Linked DNA regions of Homo sapiens: region 2 is linked to region 1. Evidence: fine-mapped expression QTL. Tissue or cell type: whole blood. Region 1 holds a variant in brackets; the other region holds the start of a gene. All regions are shown on one strand. Distances are between the middles of the regions.

Evidence for each region. PIP is the estimated chance that this variant, and not a neighbour inherited with it, causes the effect.
Region 2: PIP5K1B starts here. The variant in region 1 is fine-mapped to the expression of PIP5K1B in whole blood (TOPMed, PIP 0.97).

The regions. Positions count from the first base shown.
Region 1 is chr9:68,581,306-68,589,412 of GRCh38, forward strand. The region is part of intron 2 of TMEM252-DT (TMEM252 divergent transcript); the gene reads left to right. Among named protein-coding and RNA genes, the nearest start is that of LINC01506, 39 kb to the left of the region's middle. RefSeq lists an enhancer at 3,349-3,438. The variant G/A (reference allele first, on the strand shown) is at 3,292.
Region 2 is chr9:68,701,153-68,709,259 of GRCh38, forward strand. It overlaps PIP5K1B (phosphatidylinositol-4-phosphate 5-kinase type 1 beta), which reads left to right and starts at 4,088. Exons shown (of 16, transcript NM_003558.4): 1 at 4,088-4,610. RefSeq lists enhancers at 3,602-4,527, 5,216-5,305, 5,756-5,905 and a silencer at 3,946-4,465.

The sequences.
Region 1 (8,107 bases):
CTTCTGTGGGCTCTGAAGCTAACTACTTGCAGCTTTGCCCTCTTTCAGAGATTTGACTGTGGCTACTGAAGCTACTTTGTCCATTTAGAGAGTTGAAGTGCCTGGGAGTTTATGACCCACCCTAGGGTCCCTGGTCTCTGCCACCAATGATGGACGGATGTTGTGGGAGGGGACATTCAAAATGCCAGCTAAGGCCGGGTACAGTGGCTCATGCCTGTATTCCCAGCATTTTGGGAGGTCAAGGCAGGTAAATCACATGAGGTCAGGAGTTCGAGACCAGCCTGGCCAACACGGTGAAACCCCGTCTCTACAAAAATACAAAAATTAGTTGGACATGATGGCGGGTGCCTATAATCCCAGCTACCCAGGAGGCTGAGGTGGGACAATTGCTTGAACCCGGGAGGTGGAGGTTGCAGTGAGCCGAGATCAGGCCACTGCACTCCAGCCTGGACAACAGAGCGAGACTGCATGTCAAAAAACAAATAAACAACAACAACAAAAAAAACCAGCTATGCCTCAGTGTGCCCCATGGGATCAGGCTGAGACTGGGACTTTCTCCTGGCATTGCTCAATTGCTTGGCTTCTTCCTCTACTCCACCCTGCCTCCCCACTCCCTTAGCAGTTTCTCCAGGAAGCACTTCCTTAATAAATCATATGCACCCACATTTTTGGTTAAGTGTCTGCTCCTAAGAAAACCCCATCTAAGACAAGCACCTTCTATGCACCAGGCACTGTGATTGTGTTCCAGTAGAAGAGGCCACTATGAACAAATTAACCAATATGATTAATGTATTTTAAAATGCTACTGGGCATCACGTTTCTCTAATGAAACATATGGTGTGTCAGCCAGGAGATGGCATACTCACTTTGGGTAATTCGAGAATAGTTTTGTAAAAATATTGTTTATAAAGGTATGGGCAGGATATAGGGAAATCACAAAGAGGAGTGCAACGCCCCAGCACTAGCACCAGCAGGGTACCAGAAACCCCTCCAGAGAGAAGTCAGCCTGACTGAAGTTACAGCCTTTGATCAAGAGATGGAACCAGAACAAGGTGACCTGGCAGGGGGTCCAGGGAGAAGAAGGGCAGAGTATGGGTCTGCGCTGGTTAACAAGCTTTTCAGCACATATGGTGTGTAATTGCCAAAAGTTACCTGAATATAGAAAATAATTTTTATAGACCACCTACTGACAACTCATGGAACACTGGTGTTTTGTAGGATTCCATTTAACACTACAGGAGAGCCCTGTCTGAAGATGATTTCCTTAAGGAACAAAACATCTCAATCTGAGAACTTTTTCTGTTACAAATATCCCCCATCCCACTGTCTCTGCCCAAGTAACAGCCTATTTCCATGCAACAAAGCCAGCACCACATTAAAATAGGACCACTCTTGATCTCCCTTGTGTATGGACTCTCAAAAAGTCAAACTCACAGAAGCGTAGAGTAGAATGGTGGTTGCCAGAGGTCAAGAATAGTTGAGAGGGGTACAAAGTTTCAGTTAGACTGGAGGAATAGGTTATGGAGATCTATTATACAGCATGGTGACTATAATTAATAACAATGCATTGCATACTTGAAAATGGCTAAGAGAATAGATTTTAAATATTCTCACCACAAAAAAATAGCTATGTGGGGGTGATGAATATGTTAAACCACTTATTTAATTATACCACAATATATACATACATTAAGACATCATGTTGTATACTGTAAAGGTATGCAATTTTTATTTGCCAAAAGTAAATAAATAGCTTATTAGGAAAAAAAACATGACCATTCTATCTAACTCCCACTGCCCTGTCCTGGATCACCCGCCGCGATCTCCAGGTGCCGCATTACCACTTCTCACCTTGACATTTGCACCCTTGGTTACAGACATACACAACCTTGACTCTGGTTGAGATTCTCCTCCACTTATGCTGTCCTGGGCAATATCCGCTTAGCATTCTGTTTATCCACACCTGCAGAACTTTTTTTCTGAAACCTCAGTCCTATGTAGCACACGGCCCTCCCCACCACCAGGGGACAGCGCTTCCAGCCCAGGGAGCAGAAACCAGGCCAAGGAGGCAAAGATGAAATCAGGCAGGGGACGGTGGCTCACGCCTGTAATCCCAGCACTTTGGGAGGCCTAGGCGGGCGGATCACATGAGGCCAGGAGTTTGAGACCAACCTGGCCAACATAGGAAACCTTGTCTCTACTAAAAATACAAAAATTAGCTGGGCGTGGTGGTGCACGCCTGTAATCCCAGCTACCCCGGAGGCACAGGCAGGAGAATCGTTTGAGCCCAGGAGGCGGAGGTGGTAGTGAGCCAAGATCGCACCACCGCACTCCAGCCTGGGCAACAAGAGTGAGACTCCGTCTCAAAAAAAAAGAAAAGAAAGGAAAGAAAGGAAAGAAAGAAAGAAGGAAAGAAAGAAAGAAAGAAAGAAAGAAAGAAAGAAAGAAAGAAAGAAAGAAAGAAAGAAAGAAAGAAGGAAGGAAGAAGGAAGAAAGAAAGAAAGAAAGAAAGAAAGAAAGAAAGAAAGAAAGAAAGAAAGAAAGAAAGAAAGAAAGAAAGAAACCAGGGCTGCCTCCAAAGCTCCCCGCTCACAGGATCAGCTGCCCGTCCTAGAGAAATTTCTTTTTAACACTTTCATTCTTTTAACTCTTTCCCACTCACTGGATAAGGATTACATAGGCACTAAAAGGCATGCGTGTATTTAGAAAAGACATTTCGTATTTTGCAAAGGGGAGAGCATTTCCAGTATTGACGGGGGTCTGTTTATTCTGTTGATAAATTAGAATTATAGCAAGCTTTGTTACCTCACTTCTGATCCCACAGCAGGTTAGAAGGAAGGAAGAGGTCAGGAGTGGTGTTAGAGACTGGCAGCAAGACAATGAGGGAAAAGGTGAAAATGGAAACAGAAATGAAAACCCAGAAAGCATTGCAGGCTGCAGGGAGTTCGCATGCAGGCTTCATAGTGGAAAAAAAAGTAGAACTGTGATCAGATCTCAGCAGCTTCTGAGCATTTACAGCTGTTTTTCATGGGGCCGGAGCCAATTTTTTAAAAGGAAAAATCTGAATCTCTGAGAAAATGGTTAATGTCGGTCATTGTACTCCAAGCAGGCAGCAAAGAATGCAATGCATTTTTAAAAGACATACAGCCCTAAAAGAATGAATGAGAATTGACTCGATTCTGCTTTTAGGGAATCTTTGAGGGAGAGGAGGTAATTCGTCTTTAGCATCTTTCACGCAGGCCCCGCTGGTCTTTGCCGGTCTACAAAGACCTCCTCCTGCCCTCCACAAGA[G/A]GGCGCCAGAATTCCTAGGACAGGACCCGGTCTGTGGTCAAGAGACCCGATGAAACTCGACATGACCACTAGAGGGGGGCAGTGAGGTCCTTAAACTGCATTCTGAGATTCCAATTTGTATTTGTTTATGTCATTTTAAAGATGCTTTCATCTAAGAGACATGCTTTGTCCTGTGTGCATGATGCCAGTGAAAAATGTGCTCTTCAAACCATGGGAGCACACTTCAGTTCAGCATTTCCATCGCATCAGGGCTGGTCTGACGTAAGCAGGTGACTTTGGCGGGAGGTGGGGGGATTGGGGGGCAGGGAGGGGGTGCCAGGTACTCTTTACCCAGCAGAAAAGGCATTTTGTTCTGCTCAGTCTATCCACAACAGTTTGCAGGAAACATTAAACCTATTAAAGTGTGCCTTGTTTCAAGAATGCATGTAGGTCACGAACAACTGCTAAAGATCGATCCTTGCCACTTCTTTTTGAGGGAATTGGAGTTAATACAGAATATCCAAAGATAACAGGAGGAATCAAGTCGGGGTTGATGTGCCCCCACCCCCCACCCCCAAGCAAATGAATCATCTCTCTTCCGAAGGAACCGTTCCATCCAATAGCACCACCTAAAGACCCTTTTGGAAGACTGCGGTATGCTCCACTGGAGTGCTCTGAAAATAGCCCTGTAGTGATTAACGTAAGGACAAGAATGATTCTGCTGGGATTTGTTTTTCAAGCACCCTGTTTTTGTGGCCAAGAACACATTCCTTGAATGGATACACTTCAGGTTGTTATATAGACAGTAGTGGGGGATTGGAGAAGGTTTAAGATGTACTTCAACATGGAATAATAAGCGATCATTTTTCAGGGGTCCCCAACCCTCGGGCTGCAGACCGGTATGGGTCCGTGGCCTTTTAGGAACAGAGCTACACACAGGAGATGAGTGGTGGGCGAGCGAGCGAAGCTTCATCTGTATTTACAGCCGCTCCCCATTGCTGGCATTGCCACCTGAGCTCCACCTCCTGTTATATCAGTAGTGATGTTAGATTCTCATAGAAGTGCAAACCCCATTGTGAACTGCGCATGCAAGGGATCTCGGTTGCGTGCTCTTTATGAGAATCTAACTAATGCCTGATGATCTGTCACTGTCTCCCGTCACCCACCCCCCCACCCCCGCCCCACCGCCGATGACACGGTCTAGTTGCAGGAAAACAAGCTCAGGGCTCCCACGAATTCTAAATTATGGTGAGTCGTATAATTATTTCATTATATTTTACAATGTAATAATAAGAGAAACAAAGTGTGCAATAAATGTAATGCACTTGAATCATTCCAAAACCATCCCCCACATCATCCCTGGAGAAATTGTCTTCTATGAAACCAGTCCCTGGTGCCAAAAATGTTGGGGACCACTCCTTTAAATGATGCTGAGGAGTACATTGACATAGATGGACAGTCGCAATATGTTGCTAAGTTTAAAAAAATAGGTTCTAAAACAGCATGACCCCATTTGTGTAATATATGTGTGTATACATACATTTTTAAAAGTCTGACAGATATATCCTAAAATGATTATTCCTGGATGGTACAATTATAAGTAATATTAAATATTTCTCATTTTTCCCTCCATTTGGTTTATCTGTATTTTCACATTTTATCTACCCAACCATGTATTACATGTGTAATTTTTTTTTAAGTTTGCCAACACATGCACTTTATATCTTTTTTTGGTATTAAAAAAGACCCAGTCTTGGAACTTTTTTACACTATTATCATACACTAAAAGAATTTTTACCATTCCACGTTAATAAGATAAACACAAATTCCTTCAATATATTATTCTCCCATTTTATATATGTATATACAGACTTATTAAATAAGCATTTATTAGCACTTTAAAGAGTTATTTTTAAGGAAGAGATAGAGTGATTCATCTTTTTGATTGCTCGCTTTCATCTAAGCCAAAATGATACATCTATAGAAACATTATGGGTGAGAATCAGAGTACACTCCTTTTGTTACTACATATATATAGTGTATATATAGTAACAAAACATATACTATATGTATGTATGTATACTATACTATGTACTATACATATACTGTATATTTACATATGTTTCTTAACCTTACTTTTACTAATAAAATTTCTTAAAGGGAAACCTTTGAAAGAATCATACTTGACTTCAATCATAACCTAAAGATGTTCTTTCAGGAAATTCTGGGATGATGTATGGGTTGTCGTGAAAATGATTCTGAAGCCAATTTTAGCAGCACTGAATCTCTTGTTTTTCTGTAATCAGTAAGAGGAATGCAGCGATTCTTGAGCTTCTCAGCCTGTTCTTTGTCTCACCTGTGACACTAAAATAGTCCATTTTTCTAAGTGCTCCAGCCTTCCCAAACTCAATTATTAACAGATTAAATTTCTATGAATGTTTAAAAACAGTTGAGGTAGATAAGAGTTGTGATTCTCTGCCATTTTCCAAATAATAAATGTATATTCACTGCTGCGTTAGTAAGAAACTATTCTGTATTCATAGGCCCTTCAAACTTTTAAGGAAATTTAGATTTATCTAAAGCTTAGGGTGTATAGTCAGAAAACTTTTTTTTTAATACTTTAAGTTCTGGGATACATGTGCAGAACGTGCAGGTTTGTTACATAGGTATATACATGTCATGGTGGTTTTCTGGACACATCAACCTGTCATCTACATTAGGTATTTCTCCTAATGCTATCCCTCCCCTAGCCCCCCACCGCCTGACAGGCCCCAGTGTGTGATGTTCCCTTCCCTGTGGGAAGGATGTGGCCATGTGTTCTGATTGTTCAGCTCCCATTTATGAGTGAGAACATGCAGTGTTTGGTTTTCTGTTCCTATGTTAGTTTCCTGAGAATGATGGTTTCCAGCTTCATCCATGTCCCTGCAAAGGACATGAACTCATCCTTTTTTATGGCTGCATAGTATTCCATGGTATATATGTGCCACATTTTCTTTATCCAGTCTATCATGAATGGGCATTTGGGTCGGTTTCAAGTCTTTGTTATTGTGAATAGTGCTGCAATAAACATACGTGTGCATGTGTCTTTATAATAGAATGATTCATACTCCTTTGGGTATGTACCCAGTAATGGGATTGCTGGGTCAAATGGTATTTCCAGTTCTAGATCCTTGAAGAATAGCCTCACTGTCTTCCACAATGGTTGAACTAATTTACACTCCCACCAACAGTGTAAAAGCATTCCTATTTCTCCACATCCTCTCCAGCATCTGTTGTTTCCTGACTTTTTAGTGATCACCATTATAACTGGTGTGAGATGGTATCTCATTGTGGTTTTGACTTGCATTTCTCTAATGACCAGTGATGATGAGCTTTTTTTCATATATTTGTTGGCCATATAAATGTCTTCTTTTGAGAAGTGTCTGTTCATATCCTTTGCCCACTTTTTGATGGGGTTGTTTGTTTGTTTTCTTGTAAATTTGTTTAAATTCTTTGTAGATTCTGGATATTAGCCCTTTGTCAGATGGATAGATTACAAAAATTTTCTTCCATTCTGTAGGTTGCCTGTTCACTCTGATGATAGATTTTTTTTTTTTTCTGTGCAAAAGCTCTTTAGTTTAATTAGATCCCATTTGTCAATTTTGGCTTTTGTTGCTATTGCTTTTGGTGTTTTAGTCATGAAGTCTTTGCTTATGCCTATGTCCTGAATGGTATTGCCTAGGTTTTCTTCTAGGGTTTTCATGGTTTTAGGTCTTACATTTAAGTCTTTAATCCATCTTGAGTTAATTTTTGTATGAGGTGTAAGGAAGTGGTCCAGTTTCAGTTTTCTGCATATGGGTAGCCAGTTTTCCCAACACCATGTATTGAATATGGAATCCTTTCCCCATTGCTTATTTTTGTCAGGTCTGTCAAAGATCAGATAGTTGTAGATGTGTGGCATTATTTCTGAGGCCTCTGTTCTGTTCCATTTGTCTATATCTCTGTTTTAGTACCAGTACCATGCTGTTTTGGTTACTGTAGCCTTGTAGTATAGTTTGAAGTCAGGCAGCATGATACCTCCAGCTTTGTTCTTTTTGCTTAGAATTGTCTTGGCTATACGGGCTCTTTTTTGGTTCCATTTGAAATTTAAAGTAGTTTTTTCAAATTCTGTGAAGAAAGTCAATGGTAGCTTGATGGGGTTAGCATTGAATCTATAAATTACTTTGGGCAGTATGGCCATTTTCACTATATTGACGCTTCTTATCCATGAGCATGGAATGTTTTTCCATCTGTTTGTGTCCTCTCTTGTTTGCCTGAGCAGTGGTTTGTAGTTCTCCTTGAAGAGGTCCTTCACATCCCTAGTAAGTTGTATTCCTAGGTATTTTATTCTCTTTGTAGCAATTGTGAATGGGAGTTCACTCGTGATTTGGCTCTCTGTCTATTATTGGTGTATAGGAATGCTTGTAATTTTTGCACATAGATTTTGTATCCTGAGACTTTGCTGAAGTTGCTTATCAGCTTAAGGAGATTTTGGGCTGAGACAATGAGTTTTTCTAAATATACAGTCATGTCATCTGCAAACAGAGACAACTTGACTTCCTCTCTTTCTATCTGAATACCTTTATCTCTTTCTCTTGCCTGATTGCCTTGGCCAGAACTTTCAATACTATGTTGAATAGGAGTGAGAAAGGACAACCTTTTCTTGTGCCAGTTTTCAAAGGGAATGCTTCCAGCTTTTGCCCATTCAGTATGATATTGGCTGTGGGTTTGTCATAAATAGCTCTTATTATTTTGAGATACATTCCATCAATACCTAGTTTATTGAGAGTTTTTAACATGAAGGGGTGTTGAATTTTAT
Region 2 (8,107 bases), 120 kb after region 1:
ACTGGTCCTCTGAAATTAGTGTCTCAAGTTATACAGGGGCATCAGCTAAGCGTTTAGCCTTTCTTGTCTGCTTAGACATGAAGTTTCTAGAAAGAGAGGGCAATGTGGCAGGAGGATGGTCCCTAGAGATTTGGGAAGGATGCTGGCTCTACTTCTCTACTCTTCAATGTCAACGAATGCAATGCATGCCTTTCATCTGGATTCCTGTTTTTTTCTCATTGGAAAAAAAATAAAGGACAGATGAACAGGTGGAACTATCCATAGCTCACCAATGTTCCTCAAGTTCCCTCTGAATATTTATTGGACTTCAGTTGCTCTTGAGACATCACCAAAAAAAAAAAAAAATGCTAAATGTGCATTAGCAACTTAGAGAAATGCAACCTCCGGCATTTCATAGAAAGGTCCAGAAAGAATGTGTAACTGGTTCAAAGTGGCGTAGCTAAGAAGAATATATCGATGATCTGATGTGGTGTCACAAAGCACCCAAACACGTAGTGGATGAAGTAGTCTTCAAAAAATGGCTGCTATCAGCTCTTTTATTCCTGAACATAACACAGTACCCCTCAAGTCAGAAGGCAGAGTCTATTTCCCCTCCTCTTGAATCTGACTGGCCTTGTGACTTGCTTTGACCAATAGACTGAAGCAGAAATAACATTCTAGAACTTCCAAACTCAACCCTTAAGAGAATTGGCAGTTTCTATTCCTCCCTCTTGGAAGCAAGATGCCATAGAAGAAGTCTAACCACCTTGCTGGGAGGAAGCCCAAGCCAGCTGGATGGACAGAGAGAGGTCATGTGGAGGAGAACTGAGGTGCCTGATATGTGAATGAGGCCTTCTTGAACCTTCCAATTCAGTCCGGCTGCCAGTGGCCAGTTGAATGCCGTCAAATGAGTGACCTAGGCCAGGCACAGTGGCTCATACCTGTAATACCAGCACTTTAGGGGTTGAGGTTGGAAGGTTGCTTGAGCTAGGAGTTTGAGACCATCCTGGGCAACACAGTGAGACCTTATCTCCACACAAAAAAATAAAAACAATTAGCTAGGCGTTGGGGTGCATGCCTGTGGTCCCAGCTACTTGGGAGGCGGAGGTGGGAGGATTGCTTGAGTCCAGGAGATCAAGGCTGCAGTAAACTGTAATCATGCCATTGCACTCCAGCCTGTTCCAGCCTGTGTGACACAGCAAGACCCTGTCTCAAAAGCAAGCAAACAAACAACAACAACAACAAAAACAAACAAAAAAACCATGAGTGACCTTAGGCAATACTCAGCTAGGCTTAGTTGACCCACTGAATCATGAAAAATAGTAAATGACTGATGATTTTGGCAACTAAGTTTTGGGATTGTTTGTTAAGCAGCAATCAATATCTGAAACAGTGGCTTTAAACAGCAACCATTTATTGTTTCTCATGAATCTATGAGTTGGGAGGGTGGTTCTGGTGATCTGGACCAAGCCTAGCCAATCTCATTCAGACTTGCTTGTGCCTCCACAGTCAAGTGAGGGCTGACTGGTCAAGGATGCCTCAGCTGTTATGACTCAGCTCTGCTCTACAGGGTCTTTCATCTTCCAGCAGGCTTATTCTGGTGATGTCAGAATTCCAAGACTGGAAACAGAAATGTGTAAACATTTTTCCAGCGTTCATTTACATCAAGCCGGCTACTGTCTTGTTGGTCAAAGTAAATCATACGGTTGGGCCCAGAATAGGAGTGGACTACAAGGTTAGAGGGAAAGACCTTGGAGAAAAAAGGAGGTCATTTATTGGGGGGCCACTAATACTATCAAATGTACTACTAGGAACCCATGCATGTTTCTCATAGTTAGAGGAGTATTCAATAGCATTATTAAAGTTTTGGACTGAGGTCAGGAATCAATTGAAAAAATTACATTTAAAATTAAGCAAAATAATTAGATGAATATTTTCTGATTTTTAAATAGGTTTCCAGAATTTCTGGCCAAGTCACTATTGCTCATGATATTGATGTTGTTGTATTATTTCCAATACAGGATGACTTTCCTAAATCCCTGTTGATAGAGTTGGAGATAGAATCAGGAAGAAATACCAGGTCTCATACTACATGGTCATTCATTCCATTAATCAATTCACAGTAATAATGCAATCGTAAGGCTCTTGGTAGAGTTCCTTAGAATCCTGCTTCATAAAGTTAGCTCTCTAAATAGCCAGTGGGCAGTCTGGTTGGACACTTCTCTCTGAAAACCTAAGGCTGTTTGCTTTTGGGCTTTACAGAAGTGGCTCAATACCAGGCTCATTAATGGGAAAAGGGTCATGTGTATGGATACATGTATTTGGACATTTATACGTAATGCGTGATCACTTTTGATCCAATGTTTGGCTTTACCTGTCTTCATCTCCCCTGCATTACCAGAAACTGACTTTGCACTTTCACTTACCACCGCCTCCCTGGGAGGCAAATTCATTTTCCACTCTGGATTTCATAGCTGAAGTCTGAGAAGCAGGAAAAGGAGAGACTGGGATTACCATTCCCAGATTCCAAACTAGCCTGCTAGTTACAGCGGTATGATGCTGCCCCCTATACAGTGATTCGTACCAGTCAGATGAACGGTTCTTTGATCGGTTCTTCTGTCCTCCACCACTGGTCTATCCACCCCATCTTGAACTTTGTTAATACAATATTTCTGCTAGTTATTGTTCAGGGATTGAGAGTCAGGGAAACTGTGTTCTGGTCCTTGGGTTACTTAATGTCTTGAGACCTTAGTTTCCTCATCTGTAAAGCGGGAGGGCTGGACTAGATGTATGTTCCTCCTGCTCTGAGCTGTGAAGCGTCTAGGATGCCAGGAGAAAACCAGACCCAAGTCACAGGGTTCTAAACAAACCATACCTTAAATCTCTCAGTAATGGCCAGCCACATCTGCAAGAAGCAGGCTGGGAAAACAGCTGAAGAATAACAGATATTTGTTTTATTTGTCAATTATGGCTCAGTAAAGCTAAAAAAAAATAGATACTTCTGTTATCAAGAAATTATTGCACTTGATTCAAGGCTGATATTAAACCATAGCAGACTCACTCAAGGTGGGGGGTGAGAGAAACAAAGAGATTACAAAACTGAAAAGAGGTGTTCATTTGCAGAGAACTAAGGGAGTATCCTTCAAACAGAAACTGGAAGCCAGAGATCTCTGAAGATAAGGATCATGAAATGTTGTTATTCCCCAGACAGAATGTATCCCACGTTTTCCACCGGCGTTGTTTTTGGTAAAGAAGGGTAAGTGGAAGGAAGTGATGAGGCTGAAAAATACCATTTGCTTCAATTCAGCCGCGAAGGATCCGCTACCTTTTGGTTCCTATTAAGTGAATTTAGCTTTAGCTTTCATGATAGCATTTTCCCAAAGGAGTCCTTTAGATCTGACCCCTACCCTCTTCGCAGCTAGACTGACATCAGGTGACGTTGCAAGTGCCCCCAGCCCACTAAGCGCTATCAGTAGGAATTGGCCCTCAGCCCCGTCACAGCGCTTTCCCATGACATCCCCCAGCTTCTCTCTCCTAGGACCTCCTCGCCAGCCTACCCCTACCTGTTGGGTAGGTCTTACTTGCTGGGAACACCTGCTGTCCTTAGAATGGGAGCAACCAACGCCTTGGAATCCTGGCCTGTCCCTTCCTCGTGAAGGGGGCGCCTGCGCTCAAGTGCCGGCTTCGCCGCCTCAGGCAGAGTCTAGCAGGCGGGCGACCAGGCGTAGCTGAGTTCTGTGGCCTGGGGAAAGGGGACGCCCTATCCCCACAGCCCTGTTTCGCAGGGCTTCAAGACGCTGAGAACGGCCGGGAACCCCTGGAGTCTTGGAGGCACCCGCCAATTCCAGGGGCCCACCCCAACCCCGCTCTCAGTCTGGGCCAGCGGCGGCGGGACAGGCGCCCGGTCCCCACACACCGGCTGAGACGCCCAGCCCACTGCGGCTGAAGCTCCGGCCGCTGTTGCGGCAGGTGCTGCAAACCGGTCTGCCTTCGCTGCAGGGCTTGCGGGGATGGGGCAAGTGGGTGGAGAGAAAAGGGGAAGAGCCTGGGCGGCCGGCAGGCGGGGCCTGCAGCCTCCCCAGCCGCGGCAGCCGCCGCGCAGCCGGCTCTCTCTGCGCCTCGCTCCGACTCCGGCGCGCACCAAGCGGGAACCCGCGCCCGAGCCCGGCGGGCGCCGCTGCTGCTCCTCTCGGTCCCCGGTTCCCGGTCCCCGAACGCGCCGCGGCGAGGCTGCGCCCGGCAGTGGAGCCGCTCGGAGCTGCTGGGCTTTGGCGGCCGCTCGCTGCTCCGTCTGGCCGGAGGACCGGCGGGGAAGGAAGGGGAAAGCGGGGACACACACACTCGCCGCGGCGCGCGCGCACTGCACACTCGTAGCCGCGCGCCCCCGCCAAGGCGCGTCCGGAGCGAGTTTGGCCCCGCGGCTCCAGCCCCGGCACCTGCCCGCCCTCAGCGTTGCCCCCGGCCCCGGCCCCGCCCGCCGCCCCCTCCGCCCTCCCGCCCCTCCCGCCCCTCCCGCCCCTCGCCTGCACTGCTCTCCCTTCGCTGTGGGGAAGCGACAACGTCCCGATAACTTGCAGACTGTGGCGCAACTGGTCTTGGTAGCGGAGGCACCCGAATGCTGCCCGGGTGAGGTAAGTTTCCTGTGCGTCCCCGGCCCCTTCCCACTAGACCCTTCTGAGGGGCTTGCGCTTAGGGGCTCTGCATCTCTGCTGAAACCCGTCGGTCTCTCTACCCTTCCACTTTGCCTGTCTGCGTTGTGCTGGGGGTGACGTGGAGAGGGCGCCCGTGGCCACCGAAGCGGACCTTCGTTCCGCGGGGGCCACAGCTGCGCGCTCCCAACGGACACCCACCCGCTCGTCACCCGGATCCCCGGGGCCGCAGTGACACTCGGAGATCACTCTGGGTTCACTTAAATAGGAGTACTCTCCCCTTTTCCGGGGAACCTGCAGAGTTTGGCAGCGGAAGGAAAGGTCTCCCACCACCCTCCCCCGGTACGAAACAGCGGTGAACTTGTTAGGCGCCCTGGTATCTCAAGAGGGGCTTGCGAGTTGGTGTTCTGCTCATTTCTGGCGCTGGTGCCGGATTGAACAGGTGCGGTATGGTTCCAGTCTAAATGCAGCAACAGACTTCTGCGTTTCCCAGGCTTTCTCCCCCAGCCTGGTCAACGTGACGCTTCAACATCTGGGGCAGGGGCTGGGAGTGTAGGGGCACTGGGGAGGGAGAATGCCCGGGTTTGATTTACTATGCCGGTGCCAGGAGTCGCCAGAACAGAAGAAAACAAATGTCTGCTTATCTGGCATCTATGCAGATGAGCGTGTTGTCATTTCTTATCCCCCCCAACCCCCAGCTCTCTTGTCTGGTGCCCAGCGTGGCTGAGTAGAAACCTATTCCGGAGAAGTTATTTGGGTAGATTGATTAATTCTTTCATCGAATCTACTGAAATCAGGGCTCCGAACAAGGCAATCCTAGTTACTCTGATGCTTTTTTAAAGGGAGCGTGTTACAGATCAGAAATAACACCCACTATCATCACTACCTCTCTGTGACATTCTCAGATGCAGGAGGCCCTAGCTTTAAGGGGAATGATCCTTAAGGGACCGGTAGGACCTCAGAATGTGTTAATCTCGTGCAAGGAAGAAGCGGTCTCTGTGTCAGTACTTCTGAGTCTCGGTTTGGGGAACCCCTTTTGTCCCTCTAATGAAGCACATTCAGCCAGAGACTTCTCCCCTGTTCTGCGAAGAGACTGAAGCGTTCTGCAGCTGTTGGAGTGGAGAAAGGCGAAAGGATTGGTTTCATTAGGACTCTAATGTGATGAAGTAAGGATGGGTTTCATTAGGACTCTAATGTGATGAAGTAGGGTAGTGTTCATGGAAGCTTTGCTAGAGCATTCCCAGCTGAAAGGAGACGCTGGGAAAAAACCTTAATCGGCCAAGTGTAAACCAGTGGGAGGTTGAGTGAGTTTCATGTGTGATCTCTGAGCGGAGGGAAACGGTGGTTCTGATATGGTCCTGTGGGCAGAGACTTATGAGGACTGATGAGAAAGCTGGTGAGTTTGAGACTGATGTATGATGACATCTTACCTGAGAAGGAAAACTGTGAAGCACTAAATGATAGAACCACATTACATTTTTGTCCACGTTAAGACTAGAGAGATTTAATAATAACACCTTACATTTGCATCAGTGTCTTGCAATTTGTAAATTCTTTTGAGTGTTCTCACCTAATTCCAAACATTTCTGAGGGAGGCAGGGCAAAGACTTTTTACCATGTAAACACAGAAGGAACATGAGGCTCACAGATTCAGAGATTTATCAAGGTAACAAGTGCTGGTATTAGAATCACAGTTAGGTTTTCTGTCATAACCAGGTGCCTGCTCTGTACTTATATAAGGTGGTTTTTTAAATGGCAGAGTTCTTCTGCATTTATTGTGGTCTGCATAGTCTCACTGTAAATTACTGTTTACATTTTACAGATGAGGAAACTGAGGTTTAGACAAGCAGTGGGAGTTTTCCATGGATTTACATCTCATTTAGTGGCATTTGCAAGACTAGAACTTGGATCTTCTGATGTCCAGTCCATTGCTTTGTGTATTCTGCCATCATTTCAGTTCTGATAGCAATGAGGACACATCATGGAAACTGCAATACACAAAGGACTGTTAAGCATGCCCCCAGTGACCTGGGTTCTAGTTCTGGGACTACATTTGGCCGTATGACCTGGGCCATCATATCACTTCCAAGTCTCAAGTGTCTCACATATAAAACAAAACGTTTGTATGAAATTATGTTTTTTCTTTCCAACTTTAGCATTTTGTGATGTTTACCAATGTGTTTGTAATCCAATGTTATCATTTTCTCTAGAGGAAGGAGACCTTTGTACCCCACATCACCTAAGAGACCTAGCTAATTACTCTTTCACCTTTAGTTTATCCCTTCCCCCCTTTACTACATGCCACTTCATCAAAGGAATGAAACTTAACAAGTGCGTTTTAGCTTAACATCTACAGTATATTGTTTAGTTTACTGTTTGACTTGAAAATATTCTGAGGGGTTAAAGTACTGTAAGGTACATGTCAGGGCTTACTTGAATATTCTAATTGTAAGCTCATAACTTTTTTTTTTTAGCTTTATGGTTTGCATAAAGTAAGTGCTCAGTAAATAGCTGTTGAATTAATGAAGGGGGTGAATGAAGTCATTCATAAGGAAAACATATGCTGTAAAACATAGAAAGCATCTTACCATGTAAATTCCCAACACATAAGATAATTTGCCTACAGGCATGTGCCTCCTGAAGCTGGCGGGTACAGAGCCCATTGTTGCTCTCTTTTCTGAAGGCATCATATAGGGAAGAGCTTTTCTTTCTCCCTAGACAGTAGACTCATGTCATCTATGTTATGCTCTTTTGTTTGCCGCCCCCCCGCCCCTTTAGTTGTTAGTATTACAGCTGCTGAAAGATACATTCCTAGAAATTGACTTGTCCCATTTTATGAAAGGGTATGTCTTGACATGGGGAAACCAACCATTCTGTTTTTAAAACAGGGTATTGAATAAATTTCAGGAGATGCTAATACTGTCTCGTGGTTTCAGAGGGGGAACCTAGTTAACAAAACCAACCTAGTTTCTGTTCCTTTTAACAATCTTCTCTTTCTACTCCTCCTCTTTATATACAGACAAGTAGTGTTTTTATGTTTGGAAGAATGATAAGAAAGAATATAGTGATCTTAAATATTATTAATGGATCTGCAATTTACATTGGGGATTGATGTATGTTTCCTTCTGATAAAGAATTTAAATATTAATTAGTTTAGAAGTACCGTTTATGGGTAAGAAAACTAAAACTTAGGTGAATTGACTTACTTATGGTCACAAAGATGATAGCAGGAGGACCAAGATCAATGTGGAATTCTTAAGAAGGTTCATATTTGAGTTTGTCCCAGGAGTTCTATGGTGAAGGTACAGTTTTGACTTTTAGAAATCATAGAGATTAACAGAAAACTTCTGTTTACTATCATTATTAGAGAGTTAGTACATTTGAAAATGGTTTAGCATTTATATGTTTAAGTTTTCTTGCCCAAGCAGATGCCATTAAAAATAACATGTTTTTTTCTCTTTACTTTTTTTTTGTTTTTT